2 linked regions of the Homo sapiens genome follow. The protein of the gene in region 2 purifies or fractionates together with the protein of the main gene of each other region. This does not show direct contact. Each region holds a gene or a part of one and is shown on either strand. Other genes may lie near its edges.

Region 1 (6,297 bases), on a different chromosome or scaffold from region 2:
CTATGCCTCTTCTTTGCGGTTAAACACACACCTAGTCTTTTGAAGATAATTCCTGGCTCATTGGCACTCTCTCTAACATTTGTCCTTTCTTAAGTCTTGGTGATTGCCATATTCACATAGATGGTTATTCTAGTAACTTGGCCTCTCAGTTTTACTTCCTTTCTTCCCATTATCCTGTTTTCTATCATGCCTTAAACATTTATTTTCATAGACATACCCTAGTAGACCTTGCAATTAATAAGAACAAATTACCTGCAATAATTTCAGTTTTAAGTATCCCACCCTGACCATTGCTTCCTGTTACTCTCATTTATTTCCTTCTAGTTCTCTTGTCACGGCATTTCTTCTGCCCCAGTGGCATCTGTAACCCACTTCACTTCCTCCTTACCTGGCTTAGATTCCATGACACTTCTGTAGTCCAGTTACTCTCTCCCTGTCCTGGAGGATCTTTCATATCTTCCCTGTCCTCAAACCTGCTAGGCCTCCTCCCCCATCTTTACTCTCGGTTTTTTGTTGTTGGGAAGATAGAAGCCATCATAAGTCTACCATCACTACTCACCTACTTCCAAGTACCTATCTAAGGCCTTCCCTCCCTTGGGTCTATGGGATTCTATCTCTTCTCTCTTACTTGATGTTTTCCTCTCTGCTGGATCATTCCTTCTGACATACAAATATACTGTAATTTCTCCCAACTGAAAAAAAAAAAGGTTTTCTTTCCCCTTCTGCTTCTCACACAGTCTCCTCATTTCTCTGCTCTCCTTTTCTTCTTGTGCTATCACCTGGATCTGCTCTTGTCTCCTTTACTTGACCTGTCAGCAGCATTTGACATAGCTAATTACCCTTACTTTGTAATACTTTTTTTTTTTAACTAGGCTTCTCAGATACCACACACTTCTAATTTTCTTCTTACCTTAATGTTTGTTCCTCAGTCTCCTTTGTGATTCTTCATCTCCCATTTTTTTACATTTGAAATGCCACCAGGGCTTGTTCTGGAACCTCTTCTCTATGATGAAGATCTCTAAATTTGTATTTTCATCCTTGACCTCTTCTCTGAACTCTAAATATATTCTGGCATTCTTTTTGATGTTGGATCCTAATAGGCATCTCAAAGTCAACAGGTCCAAAACCTAACTCATCTCTCACTCATCCAAACCTGCCCTTCCCTCAGTTTTTCCCACTTCAATAAATGGCAGTGCTGTCCTTACAGAGCTCTGGAGTCATTTTGACTCCTCTTTCTCAGTCCTTCTTTAGTCTGTCAGCAAATCCTGTTAGCTCCACCATCTAAATGTATTGTCCAACCATTTACCATCTCCACAGCTACCATCCTCTCTCACATATGTTACTGTAATGATGTTCTTTTTTTGTTTTGTTTTTTTGAGACAGAGTCTCACACTTTCATCTAGGCTGGAGTGCAGTGGCGCGATCTCGGCTCGCTGCAAGCTCCGCCTCCTGGGTTCACACCATTCTCCTGCCTCAGCCTCCCAAATAGCTGGGACTACAGGCACCAGCCACCACGTCTGGCTAATTTTTTGTATTTTTAGTAGAGACGGGGTTTCACCATGTTAGCCAGGATGGTCTGGATCTCCTGACCTCGTGATCTGCCCGCCTTGGCCTCCCAAAGTGCTGGGATTATAGGTATGAGCCACGGCACCCGGCCCACTGTAATGATGTTGTAATGGACTTCTGCAGCCCTCTCTCCACCCATAGTCTATTCCCAGGACAGCAAGCAAAGTGATCCTTTTGAAACATAAGTCAGATCAACTCAGTCTTTTGCTCAAAACTCTCTCAGAGAAATTGCCAAAATCCTAAGGATGGCTTAGAAGTCCATACATGTCTATTCTCTGCACTCCACACACCGATGCAAACATACCCTCATCTCCTTGGCTCTCATCCTCTCCCACTTCATTCTGTTCACATTAGGCCCCTTTCTGTTCTTAAGACATTTCAGGGATGTTCTTGCCTCAGGGCCTTTGCACTTGCTGTTCCTTTTTCCTGGAACATTCTTTTTCCAGATAGCTTATTCTCTTACCTTTCTTGTCTCTGCTCAGACATCTGCTTAGTGAAGGCTTTTCTGCCCATCTATTTAAGAGAACATCTTCTTTTTTTATACTGTCTGTTCCCTCACACACACTAAAATGAAAGTCCCAAAAGGCAGACATTTATATTATGTTCACTGCCGTATATCCTTACCATCTAAAACTGCCTGTCACATATAGGTAGGCTCAGTAAATATCTGAATTAATGAACATTTCTAAAATGTATCAGGTCACAACTCATCAGATCATGGACTGCCACCAAAGCCATGTAACTGCCAATAAAACTGGGCACAGAAGTCTAAAAATTACTGTGATATCAATTAGCAGTTGGTCAGAACTTGAGAAAATATTTTGAGGTGTTGAAAATAGTTAAAGGAACTTCACTACTAGCTCTCCAAGTTGGGAGTTACTGCCTAGACCAACAATTATTGAGGAGCTGTGACCTTTTGAGCACTAGTTAATGATAGACACTGTTTTAGTCATGACAGTAATCCTGAAAGCAGGTGGAAGTTCTCCCATTTTAAACATGCAGAAATAGAGCCTCAAGAAACTGCTTCATTTAAAGATAATACTAGCTTGACAATCCACTGAATATGTCCTAATAAATGGAAACAGGGTGGGGGATGTCAGCCTACCAGTAATTGGTGTCATTAAACCCTCTTGAATGAATGGACATAGTAATGGCCTTCAGGGTACCTTGAAGTATAGCTAAAGGAATCTCTGGAGTTCATTTAGTAAAGCAGTTGGCATCCCTGGCCTGGGATCAGAGTAAAACCTGGAGCTAGATTGATTACAGAGTGCAAGGACTAGGCACCCCGGGATTGGAGAGCATCCTTGAAAGCAAGGGTTCTTCATTTATTTATAAAAATTTGATTGCCTACTAGAAGCCCAGCTAAGAGTATGAAGCAATTAAGACAACAATCTTTGCTCAAGAATCTCCTAGACAATCCTGATTCAAGCACCAGAAACAAAGGGAAAAGAAACCTCCCAGTCTAGTGAAGAAAGTAGTACACATCATGTCAACAGATAGGTAATTTTGTTGATACCATAAGAGCCTATTATTAGGCCTGGCATATGACAGGAGGTCAGTATTTGAGTTGAGTATTGATTGATGGTACTGTGGAAGACAGAGGAAACACATCTGACCCAGATTGGTAGGCTTTCCCAGAAAAGTTTATGCCCAAGTATAGTGTTAACAAATAAGAACTTCTCAGGTGAGATAGGGGAGAAGAGTCTGCGAGGAAAACCTGTCTAGCATGGCAAATACGAAGTCCAGAGATGAGAGAAGATGGTCCACGTGGTTTAAAAGTCTACAACAAGGTAAAGGAGGTACACAGTAATTAAAGTAGGAAAGATATGTCAACACCTAAGAATCAGAACTAGTATCTTGAAAAGTTAGGAGCCCTGGGGTTTTGTTTTTGCTTTTGCTTTTAAAGGATGTGTTTGTTCCCTGTATCACCGTGCCCAGCTTACTCCTTTTCTTCGGAAACACTTGGTGCCGTATTGTTACTGGTTGAATCTCTGTGTTTGGTTTTTAATTTGTTATCTTTGCCCCCATGCTTAGGTTTGATGACAAATACACCTTGAAGCTGACCTTCATCAGTGGGAGAACAAAGCAGCAGCGGGAAGCCGAGTTCACAAAGTCCATTGCTAAGTTTTTTGACCACAGTGGGACACTGGTCATGGATGCATATGAGCCTGAAATATCCAGGCTCCATGACAGTCTTGCCATAGAAAGAAAAATAAAGTAGCCAATTCTAAAAGTAGCCCTCTTTCTCCTGGATCTTGCTGAATTAGTGGCTTGGGGGGTGGGGGAGATAAAAAGAACTTAAAATGGGTAAAGTAAGAAATGTTAAAAAGTCCCTGTTTTGTCCTGAAATTTTAGTCTATTCTGGGTAAATAGGATTTTCTGACACAGATATGAGAAGTTGTAGCTCTGATGTCTAGCTGTAGTCTCCTTGATCTGCTGATTGCATTATTTTAATTTGCTTTTCTGGGAAAGCAGTTTTGCTAAAAGCTGTACAGACTTTTTCTTTTGTACCTAGCAGTACTTTATATAGTATAGCTTTGGGCCATGTAGCATTTTAAGACTCAATTTTAAAAAATTATTAATCTGTTGCTGACTCTTAATTCCTATTTCAATATGTGTTTCCTTGAAGAATTCAGGATACAACTTCTTGTGTATGACAGCTTTCCTTCACACACTATTTTTGTGGGTGTGTATATATCTGATTTGGGAAGAATTTAAAAAACACATAGCTTTTTAATTTGTTTGAAACAGACTTTCTGCCTGTTACATTTTTGCTTTTAACCAATTAAAGAAGCCAATGGCATTTTAGTTTTATATTGTGTTTTCCACTAGTATATCCCTGTTGATTTGTTTGTGCCTTTTATTAACTGCCATTTTCTAAAATTTTTTTCAATAAAAGGAAGGAAGATGTGAAAAAAATGGAGTCATAGTTTTGATGGAGAGAACAGAGAAACAAGTGTTAACATCTTTCTACTATAGGTTTTTTTCATTTTTAGGCTATTTTACTTGTCAAAGGCCCCTGAGAACCTGTAGCTAAGGAACTCTTAGCTTTCCAGTGATAATAACAATAATAACAACATTCTGTACTTACTTTGTGCCAGAAATGCTCCAAGTACTTTACATGTGTTAATAATGCTCACAGCAATCCTAAGAGGCAGGTGCTGTTATTATCCCCATTTTACACATGAGGAAACTGAGATACAAAAGTTAAATAATTGTCACACAGCTAGTGATAGAACTGGGATTCAAACCTGGGGAGTCCGGCTTCAGAGTTTGTGGTCCTGCAGAGACAAAACAGCCGCTTTTCCAGTATTTTCCCAGTATGGTCAGAGAAGACCTGGGTGCTTGCCAAGATCCTTTGACCTTTAGGAATATTTCCCTACAGCCTTACAAAACATCAATTTTGGCTGAGCCTAGTACCCAACACTATATTCAGTTTGTAAGAAATTACCATTATCACATTTCCTGTTTGTCTTGGAGAGGTTGTCCTATCTCGCACCACATGGTAGGGAATTGTGAACAACACTGGACAGAAAGTTAAAGCCTTGGATTCTGTACTCTTCATTCCTGTAAACCTTGGGTAAGTTTCGGAATTCTCTGTGAGCTTCTTAAAGTTTTTGAAAGCATGTAACCGGATAAGTGTATTTTTACAATGGAGGAGTTACAGTCATCTTGGTATTTGTGGGAGATTGGTTCCAGGATCCCCAAGCATACCAAAATCCAAGGATGCTCAAGTCCCTTATATAAAATGGTATAGCATTTGCATATAACCTACACACATCCTCCCATATACTTTTAATCACCTCTGGATTACCTATAATACCTAATATAATGTAAATGCTATGTAAATAGTTATACTGCATTGGTTTTTTAATTTATATTTTTTGTTATTTTTTAAAATATATTTTTAATCCATGGTTGGTTAAATCTGTAGATATAGAGGGCCAACTGTACTGTTAGACACAAGGGTCTCGAGGCTTGCAGATAGAGACTGAATAACCCTCTCCATGATGATCCCTTAGAGTTCCCCCACTGTGCCTTTTTCTTTACATGTGCATGCAAACATGTGTCTCCACATACATTTTTTTTAACAAAAATTGAATTATGTTGATATATGTCCTGTAATTTGTGTTTTAAACTTAATATATCTTAGGCATTTTCCCTGTGTGTGTGTATAATGCAGCTATTAAAAATGAGTCTGAGGCCAGGCATGGTGGCTCACGCCTTTAATCCTAGCACTTTGGGAGACCAAGACAGGTAAATCACCTGAGGTCAGGAGTTCGAGACCACCTTGGCCAACATGGTGAAACCACATCTCTACTAAAAATACAAAAAATTGGCTGGGCATGGTGGCAGATGCCTGTAATCCCAGCTACTTGGGAGGCTGAGGCAGGAGAATGGCTTGAACTGGGAGGCGGAGGTTGCAGTGAGCCGAGATCACACCCTGCACTCCAGCCTGGGCAACAAGAGCAAAACTCCGTCTCAAAAAAGAAAAAAAAAAGAGTCTGACATACATATATATAAAAGAAACTGTTCTAAAATACCAGAAGTGCAAAGGCAGGGGACCAATTGCAACAAGTAGCTGGGGTGATAACCCCTATATATATATACACATAGGTCAGTCTCATTTTTAATAGCTACATAATATTCCATAGTATAAGTGATTTTACTTTAATACCCTATTGATGATAATTTTTCCCCAGTTTTTTTCACTATTCCAGGAAGGAGTAT
Region 2 (7,029 bases):
TTTCCACGGGCAAAGACGTATCGCACTCATCAATGAGAAATGATCATGGTAAGCTGAGAGAAAGACGCAGAGGCCGCGGGCCCCGCACTGAGCCTGCGGTGGAGGAAAGCAGGAGGAACTAAGCTAGACTGTACCAGGGCCCACCCCAGGTGTGGGGTAGGAACCTTTTATGAGGCACAGAGCTGTGCCCATGTTCAGTCCCAAGGGAGAGGCAGGTTTCTGGGCCTCATCACTGCCTAGGCTTAAAGTAAGAGTGACGAGAAAGAGGCCAGTTTCAGCCTTTGTGAGCGAAGTGCTTTGGCGAGGCAGGGGTCTCCCTCAGCAAGGCTGGGCTACACTACAGCCCCTTTCCCTGTGTCCCACTGGATCTGAGCTGAGTAGCGCTTGTTGCATTACAAAGAAAAAGACTTGTGCAGGAAATAGGGTAGAGGACAGGCTCTCTAGTCAGATGCAACTTGATCTGTGGCAAAACCAAGTGGGGTCTTTCAGCTTCAGTGTGTTAGCATCTCAACACCTGGGATGGAGTTTGTGGGCGGGTCGGTTTTGCCACACTGTAGGGCCCAGGTGGTCCCACTGTCACAGTGAAGCCAAGTTCTAGCCCAAGTCTGGCAGAGCAGTCAGGCAGCTAGTTTTCAGGGGAGAAAAAAGGGGTGGGACGGGGGACTTCAGTGGCCTATTACGGAGCCCTCTCCCCAAACCAAATTCATAGCTGAGAGCTTGGGGATGGTACAGTTACAATTTAAAGTAATTGTCTAAATTCTGTATTTGGGTATTAATGTTTAAATGGTAATCTGACAACAGTTTATAAAGTGATGTTCTGAATACCATAAAAAAAAGAAAGAGCTCAGTTTCAGGTCCTCCTGGAAAGAGTTAGGCTGGCCCCTCCCCATCCTTTGTAATAATATCCATCGTAGTAATAAGAGTTATTTATTCGGGGTTTGACAGATATGAATTCAAATCGTAGCTCCGACACTTACCAGCTGGGCAAACCCAGGCTAATTACTCTGAGTCATTCTCCTCACCTGAAAAATGGGCTGGTATAAGGATTAAATGTGTAAATGTATACAAAGCATTTCGCAGAGTGGCTTGGTGCGTAACAAGTGGTCCGTCAGTGTCGAGAACTCTTATTACTACTATGGATGTTATTACAAAGGGTGGAGAGGGGCAGGCCTAACTCTTTCCAGGAGGACCTGAAACCAGCCTCTTTCTCGTCACTCTTACTTTAAGCCTAGACAGTGATGAGGCCCAGAAACCTGCCTCTCCCTTGGGACTGAACACGGGCACAGCTCTGTGCCTCATAAAAGGTTCCTACCCCACACCTGGGGTGGGCCCTGGTACAGTCTAGCTTAGTTCCTCCAAAGACAAGGAAAAGAAGACCAAGGAGCACCGTGACACTGAACTGGGTGCCACCTGGGCCTATCCCTTCCCTACCCCCACCCACACAATGACCAAATCTAATCTGGTTCTGGGATGTCCTTTTATCTTGTGTGCCAACTCTATATTAGTTGCTAATGGCTGTCTGGAGCACTGTACTTAGAAGGAATCTGGGAAGGAAAGCAAGCAGTGGTTGACTAGTGATGTCTGATGTGGGTGCAGGGCAGGAGAGAGGAAGGAGACATGCTGGCTATTCGCCATCCACAAATCGAAAAATCCTAAGGCCTTGCCTCATTCAAATAAACCATGCGTGGTAGGGAGGGTAGCCAGAAGCTAAGAGAGGGAAAGGGACTTGGCGAAGGTCACACAGCTTGAAATGGCAGGGCTGGGATTCAAACCCAGGCCCCTCTGGGTTTCTCAGGATGCTTCCTTCTAGGCTTGTCATTTCCTATGAGGGGGTGAACAGGCTAAGAAACACTGTCTGGGAGAACAGACGCTGGTGCCCCACCAGGTGTGTCTATGTTCTGTCTCCTCCCCCTGGGGCCTCCCACCCCCATGTCATTTGCAAACACTCACTGAAAAACAAATGTGTACCACAAGGTGCCCTGAGAGCTCTTCTCCAAACATGCAAATTTGAATCCAGATGCCAATCTGATTGGGCAACCCTGGATTTGAGTCTCACCTGCACTTTCCAAACTTTGAGAACATTACTCAATCTCTCTGAGCTTCCGTTTCCTTGTTTGCAAAATGGAAAGAATTATGAGCTCAATACAATAAGGTCATTCAAAGTGATTAGCTCAGTTTCTGACACAGAGTAAGCCCTTAAATGTTCATTACAGACTGTCCCCAACTTACACTTAAGATTTTTTTCTTTACGATGATGCAAAAGCTACAGTGTTCAGTGGAAACCACACCTCGAGTACCCAACCAGCCATTCTGTTTTTCACATTCAATACAGTATAGCCAAGAAATTGACATGAGATAGTCAACACTTTATTATGAAATAGGCCTCGTGTTAGATGATTTGCCCAACTATAGGCTAATGTAACTGTTCTGAACACATTTAGGGTAAGTCAGGCTAAGCTACCATGTTTGACAGGTTAGGTGTTATAACCATTTTCTACTTATGATATTTTTCAACTTACAATTCCAGGACAAAAACCTTTGGTAAATCAAGGAGCATCTGTATAAGGATTAGGTCATGGGGAAAAGCAAAAAAACAGCATTTTCACACACAAAAAAATCACTTAGGTGATTAAGGGCTTGGACAAGCTGTTGAGAGGAAACCTGCTTATCTCTGATATCTTGATAGGCTAACAGACCTAGAATATGAATTTCTATATTGGATGGTTTTAAGATAAATAGGGAACTGACTCTTCTAGGAAGATGGGTTATGTCATTTGCATTACGGAGAAAGCAGTAGCCTTGAATGGATGGATGGGTCACCGCAGGGAACAAACATGTCTACTTCTCACTTCCCAGCTGGGGGAGTTTGTGTTTCCGTTTCCTCATCTGTAATGTGGGGATAATAGCACCTGCCACCCAGCGCTGCTGTAGGACCAAATAGTAATTACAGGCAAGGCACTGAGCACCATGCCTAGTACGTGCATGTTGGGCTTATAGTCTATGGACTTTTAGTTAGTAGTGGCATGGCAGGGACCAGCGGAATGAGGCAGAGAAAGAAGAGGAGCTATAGAAGGGCTCAGAAGGAGTGGAGGAGGGGAAATGGGCCTCAGATGAGACATTTTCTCACCAGAATGGCGGCAGACGGGTCAGTTAGTAACTCCTGTATGCTGAGAGACAGGTAAGTCAAGGTGGAGACAGGTGGAGACAGGTGGAGGGGGATGAGATCCTCCAAAAGGCCAGGCTGGCCAGATGCAGTGGCTCACACCTGTAATCCCAGCACTTTGGGAGGATGAGGTGGGAGGATCACTTGAGCCCAGGAGTTCGAAACCAGCCTGGGCAACATTGCAAGACCTCATCTCTACAAGTAATAAAAAAAATTAGCGGGGCGTGGTGGCGAATGCCTGTGGTCCCAGCTACTTGAGAGGTTGGGGTAGGAGGATTGCTTGAGTCCAGGAAGTCAAGGCTGCACTGTAGTGAGCCATGATCGTGCCACTGCACTCCAGCCTGGGCAACAGAGCCACTAGACCCTGTCTCAAAAAACAACAACAACAAAACAAACAAACAAAACAGACAAACAAACAAAAAAACAACAAGCCTGAGACACTTCAGTGACAGCCAGCAAGAGGCCTGAGAACGTCAGCCTGAGAGCTAAGTGGTACCCACCCTGTGGCTTTACTGACCTAGTAAAGGTGCACTAAAGAAGGCAAGAGGTTGACCCAACAAAAAGTCACTGGGGCCAGGTGTGGTGGCCCATGCCTGTAATCCCAGCACTTTGCGAGGCCGAGGAGGGTGGATCACCTGAGGTCAGGAGTTCAAGATCAACCTGGCCGACATGGCAAAACCATGTCTCTACTAAAAATACAAAAATTAGCTGGGTGTGGTGGCATGTGCCTGTAATCCCAGCTACATGGGAGGCTGAGGCAGGAGAATCTCTGGAACCCGGGAGGCGGAGGTTGTAGTGAGCCGAGATCACGCCACTGCACTCCAGCCTGGGGAACAGAGCGATACTCAGTCTAAAAAAGGGTCACCTGGTAGATCTTTTTAAAGGGTGCACTTGTGGGCCAGGCACAATGGTTCATGCCTATAATCTCAGCACTTTCAGGGGCCAAGGTGGGTAGACTTCTTGAACCCAGGCTGAGCAACATAGCAGGGCCCCATCTCTGCAAAAATAAAATAAAGGTCACACTTCTGGTTTTTCCAGTAAAAGCAATTTGCTTCAGCCACCTAAAAACTTTTTTAAAGAACATAAAATATTTGCTGAGCTCTGCCCAGCAGTTTGCAGACCTGGCCAGGTAAAGTTCATGCACCTGAATGACAAACTGAGCTCTGGAAGGATGAAGAAGCATCTCTGAAACAAGCTGGAGTGGAGGAGGAGGGGGTGGCTTAGAAAGTCTGGAGGGTCAGGGCCTCACTACAGGGTCTCCACGGCCTTATTTCCAGAAATGACCTTCCAGCCTGTCCTCTCCTCCCTTCCCTGGGTCAAAGCAGAGAGGCATAGAGACCTAGGGGAGGAGTAATCCTAAGGTGTCTGCCCTCTGAGCCTCAGTCTCCTTAACTGCAAAATGCTGGAGAGTAGGGGGTAGGTGAGTATCAAAGGTAATGTGCGAAAGTGCCTGGTACCCAATGGTGCTCACAAAATGCCACTTCCCACACAGGGCACATTTCTGAAGTCGTCTGCAGGTGTAAGGACCAGGGGATGTGAGGTTAGTATCAGCAATCGACAATCAATCAGTCTCCCTTGTCCATCTCATAACCCCTGGAGCAGTTGATTCGTGGAGACCTAGAATCTCACATCACAGCAGCTGCCTCCAGAGCCCCCCGCATGTAACCATCAGGCTTCACAGCCTCCTGTGCTACCCTCTGGCTCAGACATGGCGATTCTAAGATGCTTGCTGCAGCCACCATGGTACCTGCCTGTCATCACCAGGCCCTGGCTCCCAGCAAAGGGGGTGGAACAGAGAGCTGTGGGTTCAGAGTGCAAGATCGTGTTTCCTGTCTGAGAAGTGGTTATGCACTGATGCACAGGGCTGTTAGGGAGCACAGGGTGAAGTGGCGCACCAATGCACAGGGCTCTTGGGGAGCAAGGGGTAAGGTGGAAGCTGTCAAGGGAGTCTCTTCCCTGCAGGGGCTGTGCAATCTTTAGAATGAAGTACCCAGCGATGCCTGTCCCCAGCTAGACCCTGGGCTCAACTCGCTGAGCCTTGACAGGTAGATGCTCTATCACCCCCAAACCTCCAGAGCCCTCAGACTCTTCCTGAGGACCACCGAAGCAGGAAAAAAGCTCCTTCGCCTAGCTGACATGTTTTGTAGATGTTGCCAGGCTATGGAAGAGGGGCTAGTGTCCACGTGTCCCATATTCTCACCCTGAGCCCCCTGAGGGCTGGCCCAAGCCCCACACAATCATTCAAGTGGAATTTGAGCCCCTCTTACATGGCCTCACTGCATCTAGCCCAGAAACCGCAAGCTCAGAAGGTAGGTAGGTAATGTCAGGGAGGCAGGTGGGCAAGTGTGAGGCAGTGGGGCGTGGTGGAGACTGTGGTAAAGTGGATGGAGCAGCTGCTAATCAGCTCCAGCCACTGTGGCCAGGCAGGGACATAGCCCCATATGGCCACATCTTCTGATCTTTCAAGAGAAGCCAGAAATCCTTATCTTTATATAAAATGAAATTGCCTGGTTTAAAAACACCAGCAACTAAATAAAAGTTGTTTAATCACCGCAAAAGTCAACAATCCCCCACCCCCTGCAGCCTTAGGAAGGCAGTTTGTGATGGATCTCCCATAACCCAGCACACAGCAGGCTATAAATATCTGAGGACCAGTTGAATACATTAGACCCATTCCAAGTCTTAGGGAAGTCTCATCTCTCCACTCCTACTCCTCAGATATATTGGTTTACAGATGAAGAATCTGAGACTCAGACAGGGGAAGTGACTTGCCCAAGGTCACAGAGGTATTCAAGGACTTCAGCTCAGCTCTCCTGAGCTTAATATCTTTTTCCACCAACCCACATCATCTGCATCCTCCCTTAAACAATGATTTTCAAAAAACAGATATGCTAAGAATATACTGTAGAAATGAAACACACCAAATTCAGGAGAGTGGTTGCCTTTGGAAAGATCATGTAGCTTAAGGCCAGGAGACTGAATTCCCAGTCCACTCTGCCCTAAGCAATTGTGTGACCCTGGGCAAGCCTCTTCTCCTCTCTGGGCCTCAGTCTCCCTGGTGCACCAAGAGCCCAGTTGACCGAGCCAGCTTCTAAAGGCCTTCCAACTGAAATTCTGGGGATCTATGTCTCCTCTCTGGCCAGTACTCTGTGGCCTCAGATGAATACAAAATAGTAATAATAATAATAATAATAATAATAGAGAGGGCGAGTCCACACCAGCCAGGAAAGAACACTACGACTTTTTGTGAAACCTGACTCCTGGTTACTGGAATTCAGAAAGAACGATGGTAATACTTGAGCAGCTTAACCACCATCCTACAATTAAACAAAAGCACATCTGGTTTAACTTCGTCCTCATCTCCTCCCTAACCCCCTACTCTCATCTCAAATTTTACCCCTTAATTTGAGAAGTCAAATTCAATGCAAACAATTGATTTCATGCCACAGTGAGGCTGAGAATTTAAGCATGGAAAACTTTAAGCATAGAGTTTTTCTGGGAGCAATTAACGAAGTGTTGGCGGGGGGGTTGGGAGCTGGTACAAGGAGGCAGAAAAATACGGAGACTATGTTCTTCAGACACTGAGCATCATATCTTGATGTTGGGGGCCTCCTATGAGCTTGACACTCAGAGAGGTAAAGTGACTTGCCTCAGGTCACACAGCTGGCGATTGGAATCCAAGACACCAGCCCCCAAACCAGTGTTTTCCCTGCTGTGTAGGCTTTTGTGACCTAAACGTGGACTTCCCTCAGGCCCTCAGGATCACCTGGTAGGGATAAAGTTAACTGCTTTTGAAATTGCTCCACAGGAAATATGAATGTCTTAATAACATCAATGCTGGTTCAGCCCAAAGTTGGAAAACCATT

What was found. Proteins that work in one complex are often made in the same cells at the same time.
Region 1: the proteins of ALPL (region 2) and SPCS2 purify together in Homo sapiens (affinity purification with mass spectrometry; 2 studies listed by BioGRID and IntAct, with this or other methods). This does not show direct contact.

What each region holds. Positions count from the first base shown.
Region 1 is NC_000011.10:74,973,257-74,979,553, forward strand, and holds the end of SPCS2 (signal peptidase complex subunit 2), read left to right. Parts: intron 1-3,600; coding exon 3,601-3,787; 3' UTR 3,788-5,777; downstream 5,778-6,297. UniProt on the Homo sapiens protein: Component of the signal peptidase complex (SPC) which catalyzes the cleavage of N-terminal signal sequences from nascent proteins as they are translocated into the lumen of the endoplasmic reticulum.
Region 2 is NC_000001.11:21,512,394-21,519,422, reverse strand, and holds part of ALPL (alkaline phosphatase, tissue-nonspecific isozyme isoform 1 preproprotein), read right to left. Parts: intron 1-7,029. UniProt on the Homo sapiens protein: Alkaline phosphatase that metabolizes various phosphate compounds and plays a key role in skeletal mineralization and adaptive thermogenesis.